2 linked regions of the Homo sapiens genome follow. The protein of the gene in region 1 interacts with the protein of each later gene in a pairwise test. Each region holds a gene or a part of one and is shown on either strand. Other genes may lie near its edges.

Region 1 (3,651 bases):
CTAGGAAGAAAACACACCATGGTAATGGGACACAGCGTGATGGGCGGTGGGGGCCTCTAGATGAAGTGGTCAGAAAAGCAGACCTCTCTGGGGAGGTGACGTCTGAGCCAGACCTGAATGACTATGGGGCAGTGACCTTCTAGAAGGCAGAGAAGGAGGCTTCCAGGCAGAGGGAGCGGAACGTAAAAAGACCCTAAGATGGAAAAAAGCATGTCAGGTTTACGGAAGCACGAGAAGGCTGGTGTGGCCTCTCTAGTGAGCACAGGGGAAAGACGCTCCATGCCGTGTTTGCAAATATGTGTGCACGTATGTGCCTGGGGGGGAGGGCAGTGCAAGGCCTCTGGGCCATGGGAATGAGTTAATAACCAGTGAATTAAGTATTCTTCAGGTAACTGATAAATGTTGCCAATTATCCCCTATGTCTTAGATCTGCTTAGTATATTTTCATTTCCAGCGAGCTCACAAAAGTCTCCTATAACCAGGCAAATATACTTCCAAAGGTAGCTCCTTTTCTAGTCTGTCTCCTGCCACCAGCTGGAATGAAATTAATTATGAGGTTAAGCAGAAATACAAAAGCATCTACCCAGTCAGGAGTATCCCATGTCTTCCTCCTGAAAAGATGGCCAAAGAAGTCAATATTTAGCACCCCAAAGTGCCACAGGTGTTTTAAAGCATGGGAGGAAAAGATATTTCTATTTTCTAGAAGGCTGTGATTAAAAATGAGATTAAGATGAACTCATCCTCTCATATGAGATGAATAATATTAACACAAATGTGTCACCACAATGCAAAACCTGTCTTCGATGCTGTAATCACAGTTACCTCCTCTGCCAGTATCTAATTCCCATAAGGGACAGACACAGGCTTCCAAGGACTTGAATCTTTCTAAAAAAATCCATAGTTTCCCAGCCAAATAAATAAGACCCAAGCAACTTATGGGTCTGTTCCACATTAGACATACACTATTAAAAAAGGCCAGTGAGGCCAGGCACGGTGGATCAATCCTGTAATCCCAGCACTTTGGGAGGCCGAGGTGGGTGGATCACCAAGTCAGGAGTTCAAGACCAGCCTGGCCAATATGGTGAAACCCTGTCTCTACTAAAAATACAAAAATTAACCGGGTGTGGTGGCAAGCGCCTGTAGTCTCAGCTACTCGGAAGGCTGAGGCAGAAGAATTGCTTGAACCCAGGAGGTGGAGGTTGCAGAGAGCCGAGATCGCACACGCCACTGCACTCCAGCCTGGATGACAGAGCGAGACTCCGTCTCAAAAAACAAAAACAAAAACAAAAAACGCCAGTGAAATTGTCTTCCACAAGTAAAGAAAGAAACAAGCTCAAACAGGCAACTGAGGAACTTGCCACGTTGGTGTGTCATGGCACAAGAACAATTCATCTGAGAGCGTTTCACAACAGGAGACCAGGAGTAAGCTGATGATCTACTGACCACTGTATGCTGTGCTGTATTTGGCTGATGTGGGAATAACTAACTTTCCCAAATGAGAAAAACTGTGTGTCTGACGGCAATCAATCTACTGAGCACGTGCCTTGTTCATTAAGTACCCGTGAATAGTGTCTAGATATTTCAACACTGCTAAGTACTTTTTTAGGAAATCTGATTTTCATAATGTTGAGGCAGTAATATTTCTGGAATTTATTATTTTATAAACTGGCAAATGGTGTTTGGGTCAGTAAGTATGGACACTAGTGCTATTGTTTATCTAAGGAGTCTTGGTCCATTCTTGGTAAAAACACTCCAGAAAACAGAAACTGATGGCTCCTTTCTGAACATGCTACTCTGTATACTTCAGCCCTAATGCTGGCAACTTACTCAGTGGGGAACACTTCATTAAGATCAGGGCCATAGGGCTGGGCATGGTGGCCCACATCTGTAATCCCAGCACCTTGGGAGGCTGAGGCGGGCAGATCACGAGGTCAAGAGATTGAGACCATCCTGGCTAACATGGTGAAAACCCGTCTCTACTAAAAATACAAAAAATTAGGCTGGGCACGGTGGCTCACACCTGCAATCTGAGCACTTTAGGAGGCCGAGACCGGCGAATCACGAGGTCAGGAGATCGAGACCATCCTGGCTAACACAGCAAAACCCCGTCTCTACTAAAAATACAAAAAATTAGCCGGGCGTGGTGGCAGACGCCTGTAGTCCCATCTACTATCGGGAAGCTGAGGAAGGAGAATCGCTGGAACCCGGGAGGCAGAGCGTGCAGTGAGCCGAGATCACGCCACTGCACTCCAGCCTGGGAGACAGAGTGAGGCTCCCTCTCAAAAAAAAAAAACAAAACAACAACAAATGATCAGGGCCATAGCAAGGCTGCCCACTCTATTACTTCACACAGAACTGGAGGTGTTAGCCCAGGCAGTTAGACAGAGTAAAGAATGAGAGCATAAAAACCGGGAAAGAAGTCATTTCTATTTGCAGTTGATAGGACAGTACGCCTGGCAACCCTAAAGAATCAATGAAAAACTAATGCAAACAGAAAAAGAAATCAGTTAGGCGGCAGGATAGAAAATCAAAGTATGCAAATCAACAGCTTTCATATACCCAAGAGAAGATGAGCATCTAGCCTCTATGTAATGTAAAATAACAAAGTCCTTTTCCTGTGAGTTTCTACCATGTCTGTCTCCCCCAGCCAAACTACTATAGAAGGTTGTTTTAAATCTAAATTTATATCAGTCGAATTACATCTTAATGCATTCATCCCAGCCTTCCAGACTGTCGAAAGTTTTGAATTTTGCCCTTTGACAGATTAACAATCTCACTCAGCTGTGTATCTTGTACAGACAAGGCCTTCTACTCACTGTTCCAAACAATCTCTAAAAAACTGTGACCAGAGGCCGGGCGCAGTGGCTCACGCCTGTAATCCCAGCACTTTGGGAGGCCAAGGCGGGCAGATCATGAGGTCAAGAGATTGAGACCATCCTGGCTAACACGGTGAAACCCCGTCTCTACTAAAAATACAAAAAAATTAGGTGGGCGTGGTGGTGGGTGCCTGTAGTCCCAGCTACTCCAGAGGCGGAGGCAGGAGAATGGTGTGAACCCGGGAGGCAGAGCTTGCAGTGAGCCGAGATGGCGCCACTGCACTCCAGCCTGGGCGACACAGCAAGACTCCGTCTCAAAAATAAAAAATAAATTAAAAAAAAATAAAGAAAGAGTAAGAAAAAAATTACCCAAAGAGCATATGTAAAAGTACCCATGGTAAGGCAAAGCCTGTCCCTTTCTGTCTTTTTAAGTCCTATCTACCCTAAAGGCACTGCTCAAATCCAACTAGGGCCAGAGGCCCATGATTCCCAAACCTCAATCATCCACTGACCATCTTCAAGAAACTATCTTTCACTCAAATGATTCCTTTTTTTTTTTTTTTTTTTTTGGTGACAGTCTCACTCTGTCGCCCAGGCTGGAGTGCAGTGGCGCGATCTTGGCTCACTGCAAGCTCTGCCCCTCCAGGTTTAAGCAATTCTCTGCCTCAGCCTCTGGAGTAGCTGGGATTACAGGTGCGTGCCACCATGCCCGGCTAATTTTTTGTATTTTTAGTAGAGACGTGGTTTCACCATCTTGGCCAGGCTGGTCTTGAACTCCTGACCTTGTGATCCACACGCCTTGGCCTCCCAAAGTGGCCCTGTGGCAACCATTGTG
Region 2 (3,651 bases), on another chromosome or scaffold:
GCTGTCTTGGGGCAGCAGAGGTAGAAGAGGTGAAGGGCATGGAAAGGAAGGCAGGAGAGGCAGGCACATCTGGTGTAACATTACAAAAATACATCCTCATTTCTGTCTGACTTTTTTGCTTTTCCATTTCTCTAAAAACATTTCTATACAATACTAATCCTTCTTCCACCATTTGCTTTCACTTCAGTGCCAGTATCACAGAAGGTTCCATTCCATATTCCATAAACAAAGCTAAAGGAAGTCTTGAATAATTGGAACCCTTCTGGCAAATTGTCTAATGTCAATTTTTTCCTGCCCCTGTTTCTTGTACATCTTATTCCTTACTGTCTGGCACAGAAGCACTCATCTCCATCAAGTCATCTTCTATTAATTCCTCAGGTGTGGTGTCTATTAGCTCTTGAATTTCTCCAAGATCTGTACCTTAAAACTCTTCACCCTTCACCTTTTTTGCCATATCCACAATCTCTTTCATGATTTCCTTAACCAGCTCTGTCATAAATCCTATGAAGTCACGCACATCTGGACAGAGTTTTCTCCACCAGGAATTTATTGTTTCAGGCCTGATGGCTTCCACAGCTTTTTCCATAACAATGGCATCTTCAGTGGTGTAATCCCTCTAGACTTTCACTACATTCTATCAGGATTCTCTTCCTTGGTGTTAACAATCTTTTCCAGAGTATCCCATGTAATGAGTCTTGAAAGTCCTGGACCAGGTGCGGCAGCTGAAGCCTGTAATCCCAGCACTTTGGGAGGCTGAGGCAGGCAGATCACTTGAGGCCAGGAGTTCGAGACCAACCTGGGCAAAATGGTGAAACCTCATCTCTCCTAAAAATACAAAAATTAGCCAGGCATTGTGGAGCATGCCTGTAATTCCAGCTTCTCGAGAGGCTGAGGCATGAGAATTGCTTGAACCTGGGAGGCAGAGGTTGAAGTGAGCTGAGATCACCCCACTGCACTCCAACCTGGACAACAGAGCCAGACTCTTTCTCAAAAAGTCCTTGAGACCTCCTGATCTACAGGCTGGATTAGAGACACTGTTTGTGGACAAGTAGACCACTTCAAAGCCTAGTGTTGAACTCATGGGATTCTCAGTGGCCAGGGGCATTGTGTCAAAAAAACTTTAAAAGGCAGTCCTGGCCGGGCACGGTGGCTCATGCCTGTAATCCCAGCACTTTGGGAGGCCGAGGCAGGCGGATCACTTGAGGTTAGGAGTTCAAGACCAGCCTGGCCAACATGCTGAAACCCTGTCTCTACTAAAATACAAAAATTAGCTGGGCGTGGTGGCAGGCAACTATAATCCCAGCTACTCGGGAGGCTGAGGCAGGAGAATGGTGTGAACCCAGGAGGCAGAGCTTGCAGTGAGCCGCGATCGTGCCACTGCACTCCAGCCTGGGCCACAGAGCGAGACTCCTCTCAAAAAAAAAAAAAAAAAAGAAAATGGGTTCTCATTATCCAGGCTTTCTTTTGGTAAAAACAGACTGGCAGCTGGTGTTTTATCTTCTCCCTTGAAGGCTCAGAGGTTAGCAGCTTTATAGACCAGGGTAGTCCTGATCATAAACTTGACTGTGTTTACACAAAACGGCAGTTAACCTAGCTCTTCCTGCCTTAAATCCTGGCACTCACTGCTCTTCCTTACTCATAAATGTCCTTTGTGGCATTGTTTTCCCCAGAACAGGGCATTTTTGTCTGCATTAAAAACCCATTCAAGCAGATATCCTTTCTCCTCAATGATTTTCTTAATGGCATCTGGGAACTTGTTTGCCGCCTCTTGGTCAGCAGAAGCTGCTTCTCCTGTTACCCTGACATTTTTTTAAGCCAAACCTCTCTACAGTTATCAAACCATCCTTTGCTGGCATTAAATTCTCCAACTTTAGATCCTTTACCTTCCTTTTAAGACACAATGACTTTTTCTCGAAAAATATTAGAGTCTATAGTTATGCCTTTCTTATAGCACTCTCGCACCCACGTAAAAGCTGCATCTTCAATATGAAATAAAAAGGTATTTTGGCCAGGCACAGTTGCTCATGCCTGTAATCCCAGCACTTTGGGAGGCCGATGCAGGCAGATCACAAGGTCAGGAGTTCGAGACCAGCCTGGCCAACATGGTGAAACCCCGTCTCTATTAAAAAGACAAAAATTAGGCGGGCATGGTGGCACCCACCTGTAATCCCAGCTACTTGGGAGGCTAAGGCAGGAGAACTGCTTGAACCTGGGAGGCAGAGGTTGCAGTGAGCCAAGATCACGCCACTACACTCCAGCCTGGTCAACAGAGCAAGTCTCCATCTATGAAAAAAAAAAGGATATTTCACAACCAGTCGTGGTGGTTCATGCCTATAATTCTAGCACTTTGGAAGGCCAAAGTGTGACGACTGCTTGAGCTCAAGAGCTGGAGACCAGCCTGGGCTACACAGTGGGACCCGTGTCTCTACAAAAAAAAAAGTTATTTTAATTAGCCAAACATGGTGGTAGACACCTGTGGTCCCAGCTACTCAGGAGGCTGAGGAGGGAGAATCACTTAAGCCTAGAAGGACATGGCTGCAGCGAACTGTGATCGCATCACTACACTCCAGCCTGGGTGATGGAGTGAGACTGTCCTAACAAAATAAAAGAAAAAGAAAAAAATGTGCTAAACTGGACTTCATAAAATTTAAAACCTTTTGCTCTTCAAAAGACACCATTATAAAATGAAAAGATAAGCCACAGACTGGGAGAAAATATTTGCCAATCACATAGCTGATAAATGACTTTTATTCAGTTTATAAAGAACTCTAGGCCAGGTGCGGTGGCTGACGCCTGCAATCCCAGCACTTTGGGAGGCCGAGGCAGGCAGATCACAAGGTCAGGAGTTTAAGACAAGCCTGGCCAACATGGCAAAACTAAAATTTTTAGTCTCTACTAAAAATACAAAAATTAGCTAGGCATGGTGGTGGATGCCCATAATCCCAGCTACTTGGGAGGCTGAGGCAGGAGAATCACTTGAACCCGGGAGGTGGAGGTTGCAGTGAGCCAAGATCGTGCCATTGCACTCCAGCCTAGGCAACAAGAGCAGCAAGACTTTGTCTCAGAAAAAAAAAAAAGAAAGAAAAAAAAAAGAACTCTTGGCCAGGTGCAGTAATCCTAGCACTTCAGGAGGCTGAGGCAGGCAGATCGCTTGAGCCCAGGAGTTCAAGACCAGCCTGGGCAACATTGTGAGACCCCATCTCTAAAAAAATTAATAAAAAAATAAATAAATAATCCTATAACTCAATAAGGCAAAGAAATCAATTTTAGGCTGGGCATGGTGGTTCACATCTGTAATCCCAGCACTTTGGGAGGCCAAGGCAGGCGGATCACTTGAGGTCAGAAGTACGAGACCACCTGGTCAACATGGTGAAGACCTCATCTCTACTAAAAATACAAAAAATAAATAAAAAAATAAAAATACAAATACAAAAAATTAGCTGGGCATGGTGGCGCATGCCTGTAATCCCAGCTACTTAGGAGGCTGAGGCAGGAGAATCGCTTGAACCCCGGAGGAAGAGGTTGCAGTGAGCCAAGGTCGTACCACTGCATTCCAGCCTGAGTGACAAAGCGAGACTCCATCTCAAAACAAAAAAAAGCAATTCTAAAACGGGCAAAAAGAGGCCGAGCACAGTGGCTCATGCCTATAAT

The links. The genes of interacting proteins can lie anywhere in the genome.
Region 2: the proteins of TAB1 (region 1) and MAPKAPK5 interact in a two-hybrid assay, tested with the Homo sapiens proteins (one large-scale study listed by BioGRID and IntAct).

Annotation. Positions count from the first base shown.
Region 1 is NC_000022.11:39,406,132-39,409,782, reverse strand, and holds part of TAB1 (TGF-beta-activated kinase 1 and MAP3K7-binding protein 1), read right to left. Parts: intron 1-3,651. UniProt on the Homo sapiens protein: Key adapter protein that plays an essential role in JNK and NF-kappa-B activation and proinflammatory cytokines production in response to stimulation with TLRs and cytokines.
Region 2 is NC_000012.12:111,848,682-111,852,332, reverse strand, and holds part of MAPKAPK5 (MAP kinase-activated protein kinase 5), read right to left. Parts: intron 1-3,651. UniProt on the Homo sapiens protein: Tumor suppressor serine/threonine-protein kinase involved in mTORC1 signaling and post-transcriptional regulation. Phosphorylates FOXO3, ERK3/MAPK6, ERK4/MAPK4, HSP27/HSPB1, p53/TP53 and RHEB.